Linked DNA regions of Homo sapiens: region 1 is linked to region 2. Evidence: fine-mapped QTL for protein levels in blood plasma. Region 2 holds a variant in brackets. A gene starts in the other region. All regions are shown on their reverse strands. Region 1 holds the start of DYNLT3 (dynein light chain Tctex-type 3). Region 2 overlaps TRIM58 (tripartite motif containing 58).

What was found. PIP is the chance, under the fine-mapping model, that this variant and not a neighbour inherited with it causes the effect. The UK Biobank Pharma Proteomics Project read protein levels with antibody pairs (Olink). The fine-mapping took linkage between variants from a reference panel, not from the people measured, so its PIPs are less certain.
Region 1: it holds the start of DYNLT3, and the variant in region 2 is fine-mapped to the plasma level of the DYNLT3 protein (UK Biobank, PIP above 0.99).

The regions. Positions count from the first base shown.
Region 1 is chrX:37,846,502-37,851,833 of GRCh38, reverse strand. It overlaps DYNLT3 (dynein light chain Tctex-type 3), which reads left to right and starts at 4,263. Exons shown (of 5, transcript NM_006520.3): 1 at 4,263-4,353. The coding sequence starts at 4,324. RefSeq lists a silencer at 4,490-4,599.
Region 2 is chr1:247,870,148-247,875,499 of GRCh38, reverse strand. The region is part of intron 5 of TRIM58 (tripartite motif containing 58); the gene reads right to left. Among named protein-coding and RNA genes, the nearest start is that of TRIM58, 16 kb to the right of the region's middle. The variant C/T (reference allele first, on the strand shown) is at 592.

The DNA.
Region 1 (5,332 bases), not on the chromosome of region 2:
TTGCTGGCAGAACTCACTTTTCACCATACAGAATGAAAAAACAAACATTTGTTGTCCCATATGTTTTGCCCGGTGGGGAGTCACGTGGCCCAATCTTGGCCACTGGAACCTGAGGAGAAAACTCCTGAGGACTTGAAATAAAGATTTTCTTTCCTAAGAAAATCCGATCAACCCCAGAAAATGCTCATCTTAGTCACTGAACGTGATATCTTTGTTCCTAGCGATACCAGAACTAATGCAGCCGTGTATGACCATGAGGCTAAATGTTGCTGACATGCTGAGGATATTGGCATGGAAAGATGAAAAGCACAGAAGCCCCAAAATTTGTTGAGCAACTAAACGAACCTGGAATATCTCTGCCTCTGTATGTCTGTGTATTAGTCTATTCTCTCATTGCTTTACAGCAATGAGAAATACCTGAGACTGGATAATTTATGAAGTAAAGAGGCTTAGTTGGCTCGTGGTTCTGCAAGCTGCACAGGAAGCAGAGTGACTCCTGCTTCTGGGGAGGCCTCAGGAAACTTACAATCATGGTGGAAGGTGAAGGGGAAGCAGGCACATATTACATGGCTAGAACAGGAAGAAGAGAGAGAGGAGGGAGGTGCTACACACTTTTAAGCAGCCAGATCTCATAATAACTCACTCACTTACTCTCACAAGAACAGCACTGAGGGGATGGTGCTACCCATCATGAGAAATCTGCCTCCATGATCCAATCACCTCCCACCAGGCTCCACCTCCAACACTGGGGATTACAATTCAACATGAGATTTGCTGGGGACAGATCCAAACCATATCAGTCTGGTTATATAAAAAAATAAATGCCATTATTTCAGCTCATCCTATTTGGGTCTTCTGTTACTTGCAACCACAGGATGCTAGTTAATAAACCCACTTGTAGTTTTAAAGCATGAGCCCCAAATTATTTGACACTTCTCCCATTGAGAAGTGGATTATGTGTCCCCTCCCCTTGAATCTGAGTGAATGTTTCAATGATTAGAGTATGGTAGAAGGGCTGCTGTGTAACTCGTGACACTAGGTGATAAAAGGTGACATATCTTCTGCCATGCTCGATGGAACCCTCATGCTTGGAGCCTTGAGTTGCCATGTAAAAGATCTGGCTACCCTAAGGTTGCCATGATGGTAAGAAGCCAATCCACTCGGTGGGGCCATGTGTTGTTGCTCCAGTTGGAAGTGCTAATATTTTATTCATCCAAGCCCAGATATCAGACATGTGAATGAACAAGTCTTCAGATGATTCTGGTCCCCACCATTGAATTTCCTCCAGTCTTTGAGTCTCCCCACCTGAGGCCCCAGACATCACAGAGCAGAGGCAAATTATTTCTGCTGTGCCTTGTTCAAATTTCTGACTAAACGAATCCATGAGCATAATATAGTAAATAAGCTGCTAAATTCTGGGGTAATTTATTACACAGGAATGGTAACTGGAACAACACTTCTTCATCTCACTTTATATGCATCATGAATGATCACATAACACAAACTTGAGATGTGCTGGTGTAGCTCTTGCAGTATTAAGATTAGGTAACTTCAGGGTTTAACCCACCCAGGCATAGAAACAGTTCTTTAGGGAAATAAAACTGATGTTCACAAAGACACTACGAATCCTTCTCATGAATAGACTGCCGGAGTTGCTCATAGGATGAAAACTTTGGTAAAAAAAATTCTTGAAAGAGGATGTGCTTCCTCTATGAATTACAGTCACTTTTCTGCAGTAACCCTGCATGATCCACAACTTAGGAGAACCAATAACAAACACCATACTATCAAGTAAACAGCCTTGTTTGGTTCTAAGTTCATAAAATAAGAGCCTGAGGTTCAGAAGCCCAGGAGTCCAGTTAACACCTATGTGCCCTGTAGAAGTTACTTTATCTTCTCAGCTTCAGTTTTACTTGTAAAATAAGGGAGATGGACTAGAAGACTAATGGTTTCCAACTTTGATTCTGGGGAGCAAAATAGAAAAGTGTTGTGGTTGGCTGAATAATGCTCCCCCTCAAATTTGTCCACATCTGAATTCTGAGAATCTGTGAATATGATACAGAGTGCAAAAGACACATGGCATATGTGATTAAGTTAAGGGTCTTGAGAGGGAAACAGGAGGGCAAGAGTCATACATCTCTCGTTTATAGAGATGCCTCACACTTCCTTTGAAGCAGAAGCGAGAGAGGAGAAAAGATACTACTGGCTTTGAATTTGGAGGAAGGGGTCATGAGCCAAGGAATGCAGGCAATCTCTAGAAGCTGGAAAAGGCAAAGAAACAGAGTCTGTCTTGGAGCCTCCAGAAGGCATGCAGCTCTATGGGCCCATTTTAGACTTCTGACCTCCAGAACTGAGGCAGGAGAATAGGGTCAGGAGGCAGGGAACTTAAAACTGTTTCACGCTTACTTCATAGAACTAAATTGAAAGGAAAACCCTGGCCAGGCACAGTGGCTCACGCCTGTAATCCCAGCACTTTGGGAGGCTGAGGCAGGCAGATCACTTGAGGTCGATGAAGTCGGGAGTTCGAAACCAACCTGACCAACATGGAGAAACCCCGTCTCTACTAAAAATACAAAATTAGCTGGGCGTGGTGGTGCATGCCTGTAATCTCAGCTACTCAGAAGGCTGAGGCAGGAGAATCGCTTGAACCCGAGAGGCGGAGGTTGCCGTGGGTGAGCCGAGATCGCGCCATTGCACTCCGGCCTGGGCAGCAAGAGTGAAACTCCGTCTCAAAAAAAAAAAAAAAAGGAAAACCCTAACCTTCCATACCTTCCATGCCTAAGTAACAAAAGGACCAGAGGCTATTCCCTTTGCAAATCCCCACCTTTTCTGCAGGGCAGATGGGAAATTTAAAGTACCTCTGATTGGTTGCTTTTTGCAACCAAAGAGCAAAAAGCAACCAATCAGACATTTGCACAGGAGTGGAACTTTGTAACTTCACTTCAGCCTCTGATTGGTTGCTGTCTGCAACCAATCAAACTGATTATGGGCCAAATCTTTGTTTGAATAGAAGTGCAACTTTGTAACTTCACTTTAGCCTCTGATGGTTGCTTTCTTGCAACCAATCAGACGTTTGCATAGGAGTGTGGCCTTTGTAACTTCAGCCTCTGATTGTGGGCCACTACTTCATTTACATGGGGTGCACACCAAGTGGCCAATGGGAAATCTCTAGGGGGTATTTGGACCAGAGAAGATTCTGGATCCCGGCCCTTGAGCGGCTTCTCTGCCCGCTCCCACCCTGTAGAGTGTACTTTCGTTTTCAATAAATCTCTGCTTTTGTTGCTTCATTCTTTCCTTGCTTTGTTTGTGCGTTTTGTCCAATTCTTTGTTCAAAGAGCCAAGAACCTGGACACCCTACACTGGTAACAGAACTGTAAGAGAACAGGACTGTGTTTCTTTAAGGCACTACATTTACGGTAATTTGTTACAGTAGCAATAGGAAAGTAATACAGTGGTTAAGAGCTTGGGCTCTGCTATCAGACTACTTGAGCTCAAGTCCCTTTTCTACACCCTACTGGCTGTATGACCTTGGGCAAATTAAATTCTCTATACCTCAGTTTCATCTTGATAAAAGCAGTGATGGAAGAACTAACTCCTCTGACTTATTGTGAGGTTTTGAGGAAGTGTCTAGGATCATCTGGAAATTAGTAATTTATTTTAAAATTACTAATTTAAAATTACTACATTTATTTTAAAATTACTAATTTAAAATTACTACATTTATTTTAAAATGTAGTCATTGTTCTCTTGTTGAGAAGCATCTACTTTAGGAGCCGTGTATACAGCTTCTCATCAGATCCTTACAACCAGTAGTGAAATAGGTATGATGGTAAGTTTCCATATGAGAAAACTGAAGCTGTGGGAGGTGAATTTTTCCAAGTAACATAGCTAGTAAGTGGACAAATCAAAGTGGCTGGTTTACCACGAAATTAACTACATTTATGTGCCACATGATGGTGAATGAACAAATACGTGCAAGTAATCACAGCAGTGGGCACTCAACCACTAGTGCGGAGTCTAGACTAACTGCCACTAGGTCACCCCATCTGATCCACACTGGCGCCATTCCCAGTTCTTTACATTCATCCCTTGTTTCCAGAAAGGGCAGAGGAAGCGAGGAAAAAGTGCGTGGCCTGAAGTGACGCCTGGCGTTGCCCGAAGCCCGCCCAGCGCTGCCAGGTGACGCCACTGCGACACAAAGGCGGGGATTGCGTAGGGAAAGGCCCTAGGCCATAAACGGGGGTGGGGCCTCCCCGGAGGCCAGTGCGCGGCCGCGGTGCTCTACCGGCGTGTCGCTCCGCCCCAGGGAGAGCCGGCGCTACCATGGAGGAGTACCATCGCCACTGCGACGAGGTACCGCCCCTTGGCTACCTGGGAGCGCCCCCCACTCCCGCCTTCCTCTGCGCGGGGCTCTTGCCGGGTGGTCTCCCAGCGAGGGCGGTCCCAAGAGTTGGGGTGCGGCGTCCTCCGAGCCCGGGTCCTCTCCCCTGGGCCCGGGATCCGCCCCGCCCGACCCGTTCTCCCCACCCCAAAGTCCTGAGATTCGGGGTGGGAGGGGTGGCCAGGAGCGCGCGGATCAGACGGTGGGGTCGGGGCAGGGTTGGGAGGACGAGGCCTGACTTGGGTGCGAGGAGTGGGCATGGGGTGACGGGCGCCGCCCTCCTACCGGGCGGGCCTCGAAAACGGGTCTTCCCGCTGCTGCCTCCGTCCCTTGGCTTCCTCAGCGCGGGTGCTGCAGCCCCCATGGCTCGGAGTCTCGGGGTCCTGGTGGCACTGCCATTCCCGCTCCCGGTAATGCTTGCCAGGATTAGGCAAGGAGGTGCTTTATGGATTACGAGCCCTTGCTTACTGACTCAGGCTTTCCCAACCCTCACCAGAAACCCATGATGTCAGTTGTTATCTCCCTGTTATTGATGGGGACTCCAAAGAAAAGACTAAGTTGTCAGACCACTTTATAGTACTAAAGTGATATTAATCTTGAGTTATCAAGTATTTTCATAATCTTTAATTTGGGAAAGGAATTTTTGCCTAGAAATTTTTGCCTAGCATAAGTTAAAAACAAAATTGAAAATAGTCTACTAAGCATTCTCTTCATATGGACCACTTCATTCTCTCACTTAGCTGAAACCATTTCTATATTCTTATGACACATAACATCCTCATAGTCACCTCTTGCTTATTTCCTACGTTTTACAATACAATGATTCTTAATCTAGGATGTTCATTAGAATCACCAGTATAAAGCACTTTTTTAAAAAAAAATGTAGACTTGCAGGCTCTGCCCCAGACCTCACGGGAGGTAGGTAGGGAAAGCATTCAGTATTTTTAAGTG
Region 2 (5,352 bases):
GAGCTATTCATGGGCATAGCCGTGGTACACTACAGCCTCAAACTCCTGGACTCAAGCAATCCTCCCGTGTCTGCCTCCCCAGCAGCTGGGACTACAGGTGCACACCACCATGTCTGGCTTACATCCAAAGCATTTGAGTGCACTTAGGAGGATCTTCTGCATTTAACATAAAATTTATAAACCCCTTAGGAATTTTTTTCTTAAAAATCTATAGAATTTTATTAATATTAAATCCACTACTTCCAAAGTTATATTACTGTGGTAGGCGGAATTCTAAGATGGACCCCATGACCTTCACACCCTGGTGTTAGCCTCATGAGTATGTTACACTATATGACAAGAGAGAGATTATCAAGGTGCGTCTAATCAAATCCCACAAGTCCTGTAAAATCAGAAAGTTTTCTCTGGCTATTGGGTTGGTGGCAGCAGGAAAGGTCAATAAGATGTGGATTTGATATCTCTTTGCTGGCTTTGAAAATGGAAAGGTCACATGAAGAGACAAACGAGTGACCTCTAGAGCTGAGAGTGATCTCCAGAGCTGAGAATAGCCCCCAACCAACAGCCAGCAAGAAAACAGGAATCTCAGTACCG[C/T]ATTTGCACAGAATTGTATTATGCCAACAACCTGAATAAGGTTGGAGGTAAGGTTCTTCCCCCGACCTACACAGAAGCCTGGCCTGGCCTGGCCAACACCCATATTTGGGCCTTGAGAAAACCTAAGCAGAGGAGCCAGCTGATCCCACTTGGATGTCTGGTCTTCAGAACCATGAGCTACTAAATGGTATGGCTTTAAGCACATAAGCTTGTAGTTATGCGTTATATAACAATAAAAAATACTGATACTCTGAAGTCCCAGTGAGATTGATGAGACATTTGACCCATATACATAATAAATAAATACATCTAGATATGAAACCTCAGTGAAGGGGGGATGTAAAATATTCAGTGCATTTCCTTATTAGCATTGCTTATAAGTAGTAAGTTAATAAATAATATGGTTTGGATGTGTATCGCCTCCCGGTCTCATGTTGAAATGTGATTCCCAATGTTGAAGGTGGGGCCTAGTGGGGGGTGCTGGATCATGGGTGCAGATCCCCCATGAATGACTTAGTGCCATCCCACTGGTGATAAGTGAGTTCTTTATCCGTTCATGCAAGAGCTGGTCGTTTAAGAGGAACCTGGGGCCTCCCCACTTCACTGCTTCCCTCTTGCCATGTGATACGCTGGCTCCTCCTTTGCTTTCCACCATGACTGTAGGTGTCCTGAGGCCTCACCAGAAACAGGTGCCAGCACCATGACTCCTGTACAGCCTACAGAACCATGAGCCAAAATAAAGCATATTTCCTTATATTAATAAATTACCCAGCCTCAGGTATTTCTTTATAGCAATGCAAAATCAGACTAACATGTTAATATAGTTTGATTTTTAATATCAGAACAAATACTGTTTCTACTGCTACTGCTACTGCTACTGCTACTACCACTACCACTATACTTATTTGCCTTTAAACACTTACAGTGAACTACTTTTTTTTTTGAAACGGAGTCTCGCTCTGTTGCCCAGTCTGGAGTGCAGTGGTGCAATCACAGCTCACTGCAGCCTCCACCTCTCAGACTCAAGCCATCCCCTGACCTCAGCCCTCTGAGTAGCTGGGAAGGCACACACCACCATGCCCAGCTAGTTTTCTGTATTTTTTTGTAGAGAAGGGGTTTTGCCATGTTGCCCAGGCTGGTCTCGAACTCCTGGGTTCAAGCAATCCATCCGCCTCAGCCTCCCAAAATGTTGGGATTACAGGCGTGAGCTGCCACGCCCGGTCTAGTGAATTTTTATTGATACCCAACCTGAGTGGTCACGTAACTGCGCATTGCATTATTTTTATTATGTAACCACCCTGAGGGTCACCATTGTCATCCCTACATTACACAAGAGTAGATTCAGAGTCAAAGAGTTTATGTGGTCTTCCCAAACTCTAGAGGTAAATAACAGAGATTGAAAGGTAGGTCTCCATGGATTGTGCATTTAACACAATCTAACAGGTCATGTATTCCCAAGCCATTCCTCTTCCGGCACAGTGGTCTGCTTCATTTCTAACAAAAGAGATCTGTGAAATGGCTTTTGATATGGTCTGTATCCCATTCCTCTCCCTACCCCTTCTCTCCTAAACTCAATTCTTCATCATGATGTGACCATACCCCAACCAAACTGCGCATGTCCATCTTCCCAGGGACCTCCGTGTTGATGAATGGTTACTTGTCAGTTTGTCTTTTTTTTAAGATGGAGTTTTGCTCTTGTTGCCCAGGCTGGAGTTCAATGGCATGATCTTGGCTTACTGCAACCCCCATCTCCCGGGTTCAAGTGATTCTCCTGCCTCAGCCTCCCGAGTAGCTGGGATTACAGGCATGCACCACCACGCCTGGCTAATTTTGTATTTTTAGTAGAGACAAGGTTTCCTCAGGTTGATCAGGCTGGTCTCGAACTCCTGACCTCAGGTGATCTGCCCGCCTCGGCCTCCCAAAGTGCAGGGATTTACAGGCGTGAGCCACCGCGCCCGGCCCAGAGTTCATCTTCAATGATTTTTCTGTATCTCTCAACACTGAGAATCTACTTGTGCTGGAAAATCTCCCTTTTCCAAAGGTAACACTCATCCATGTTTCCCTTCCCTCACTGCTCACTACTCCTTGATCCTCTTTGCTGTTCTCTTCTCCTCCACCACCACCACTGGAGAAACCTATAGTCCCAAGACTTGGACTTCTTCTCTCTCTCTCACCTCACTCCCTATCTACCCGGGTGCTGGCTGGTTCATTGCTTTGATAAAATTCCATTCATATGCTGACTGATTCCCAATGCATGTGCTTAGCTTTGAACTTTACCCTGAAACTCCCTATTGTACATTCATCTGCCCACTTGATAGCAACATTTGAATATTTAGCACTCATCGCAACATCCACATATCCAAAACCCTGTGCCCTTCTTCTGCTTCAACTGTCGCTTTCCTCATCAATATAAGTGGCAATCACATTTTGCCAGTTCGCAAGATCCAAAACCTTGGAATCATTCATGGCTCTTCCTGTTTATAGCACATCATATATAATCCAACAGCAAATCTTAACAGCTCTGCCTTCAGTATATAACAAAAATCTGTCCATCTTGCGGCACCTTCCGTAATAACATCTATTCCAACACATAATCATCTCTCATCAAATTACTGCAAAGACCCTTAACTGCTTTTCCCATGTCAATCTTCTCCTCTCTGTAATTTACTTACAAGAAAGCATATAGAGTGATCCTCATAAAACATTAGTCCAATCAAACTATTTTTCTAGGTACAACTTTCAACTATGTCCTATTTCGCTCAGGGATAAAGTATCATGCTCAGCATGGCCTGCCTATCTAGCCCTTTCTTGGTCTCTCCGACCCTCCTGTCATTTACTCTGCCACAGAGTCCTCACACTGACATCCTCACAGCTCCTGGAACACACCTGCCATCCTCCACGTCAGGCCTTGGCGCTCATTTCTGCTGCCTGAATGCTTTCTTCCAGATCATATATTTGCTGGGTTATCCCCTGCAGGGCGGGGTCTTTCCTGGTCACCTTATTCAAAACTAGAACTTCTCATTACCCTTTGCATACTCTTTTTGATTTTCTTCAATATTCTGTGTCAGCCACTTACAGCCTGTGTATTTTGGTGAAGTACATATCTGCAACACAAAGCTACGGATTGTAGAGTATTTTGTTGTTGTTGTTGAATGATATATTCCAATGTTTAAAAGAATGGGTGAGATAAAATTAATCACACATTTTGAATGATTTCATTCCATAAAAACAAATATGGATATGAGGTTGCTGAGTCTGAGGGTGCCATGACGATTTTAATCAAGTTGGGCATTTAGCATACATTCATCTACCCAGGAGAACGTGGGTACTATGCTGCAGAGATGGGTTTTCTCATTAAGGGACTTTACACTCTTTCCCTCTAAGTAGTGAAGTCACTATTTAGACATAGTTTTCATTACTTGGGATAAATTAGATTTTAAAATGAAATTGTAAACAATACTGAATCTATACTGTTTTAAAGAATAATACAATCAGACTAAACACACTAATTTTTTGTGACACTGCTTATTCCTACATGAAAATAACTGACAATATTTTTGGCTTTATTGACTCACTAATTCAAGCAACTCATCAAATTCTCAGCCAATAAATTAAACCAAACTTCTTGCTAATTGATAACTTTGCAGTGCTTTCATATTGATTACTTTTAGGAGGTGGGGTGCTTTCAAATGTTTCATTTTGTCCTCCAAGCAATTTATTTTTAGCATTTTATAAGCAAGGAAATGTAAATTTACTGGAAGTAACGTTACTCATATCAGCTAATAAGAGATGACCTACAGTTTTAAGCCCATAGTCTAACCAAATGTAGACTCTATGGGTGGCCGTGACTCTGATACTGCTCATGAATATACTAATCCTCGTTCTTCTGGGCGTGGTGGTGCAGGCTCTATGGGTGGCCGTGACTCTGATACGGCTCATGAATATACTAATCCTCGTTCTTCTGGGCGTGGTGGTGCAGGCTCTATGGGTGGCCGTGACTCTGATACGGCTCATGAATATACTAATCCTCGTTCTTCTGGGCGTGGTGGTGCAGGCTCTATGGGTGGCCATGACTCTGATACTGCTCATGAATATACTAATCCTCGTTCTTCTGGGCGTGGTGGTGCAGGCTCTACGGGTGGCCGTGACTCTGATACTGCTCATGAATATACTAATCCTCGTTCTTCTGGGCGTGGTGGTGCAGGCTCTACGGGTGGCCGTGACTCTGATACTGCTCATGAATATACTAATCCTCGTTCTTCTGGGCGTGGTGGTGCAGGCTCTATGGGTGGCCGTGACTCTGATACTGCTCATGAATATACTAATCCTCGTTCTTCTGGGCGTGGTGGTGCAGGCTCTATGGGTGGCCGTGACTCTGATACTGCTCATGAATATACTAATCCTCGTTCTTCTGGGTGTGGTGGTGCAGGCTCTATGGGTGGCCGTGACTCTGATACTGCTCATGAATATACTAATCCTCGTTCTTCTGGGCGTGGTGGTGCAGGCTCTATGGGTGGCCGTGACTCTGATACTGCTCATGAATATACTAATCCTCGTTCTTCTGGGCATGGTGGTGCAGGCTCTATGGGTGGCCGTGACTCTGATACTGCTCATGAATATACCAATCCTAATTTTTCTGGGCATGGTGCACTCTCCCACGGAAGGAGACCAGGGAATTTTACCCTAAAATATGGCACCCTGGTATGCCCATTATTTTAAATTAAAGGCCCTTGGAGACCATCACACACTGTAAGAAGCTTT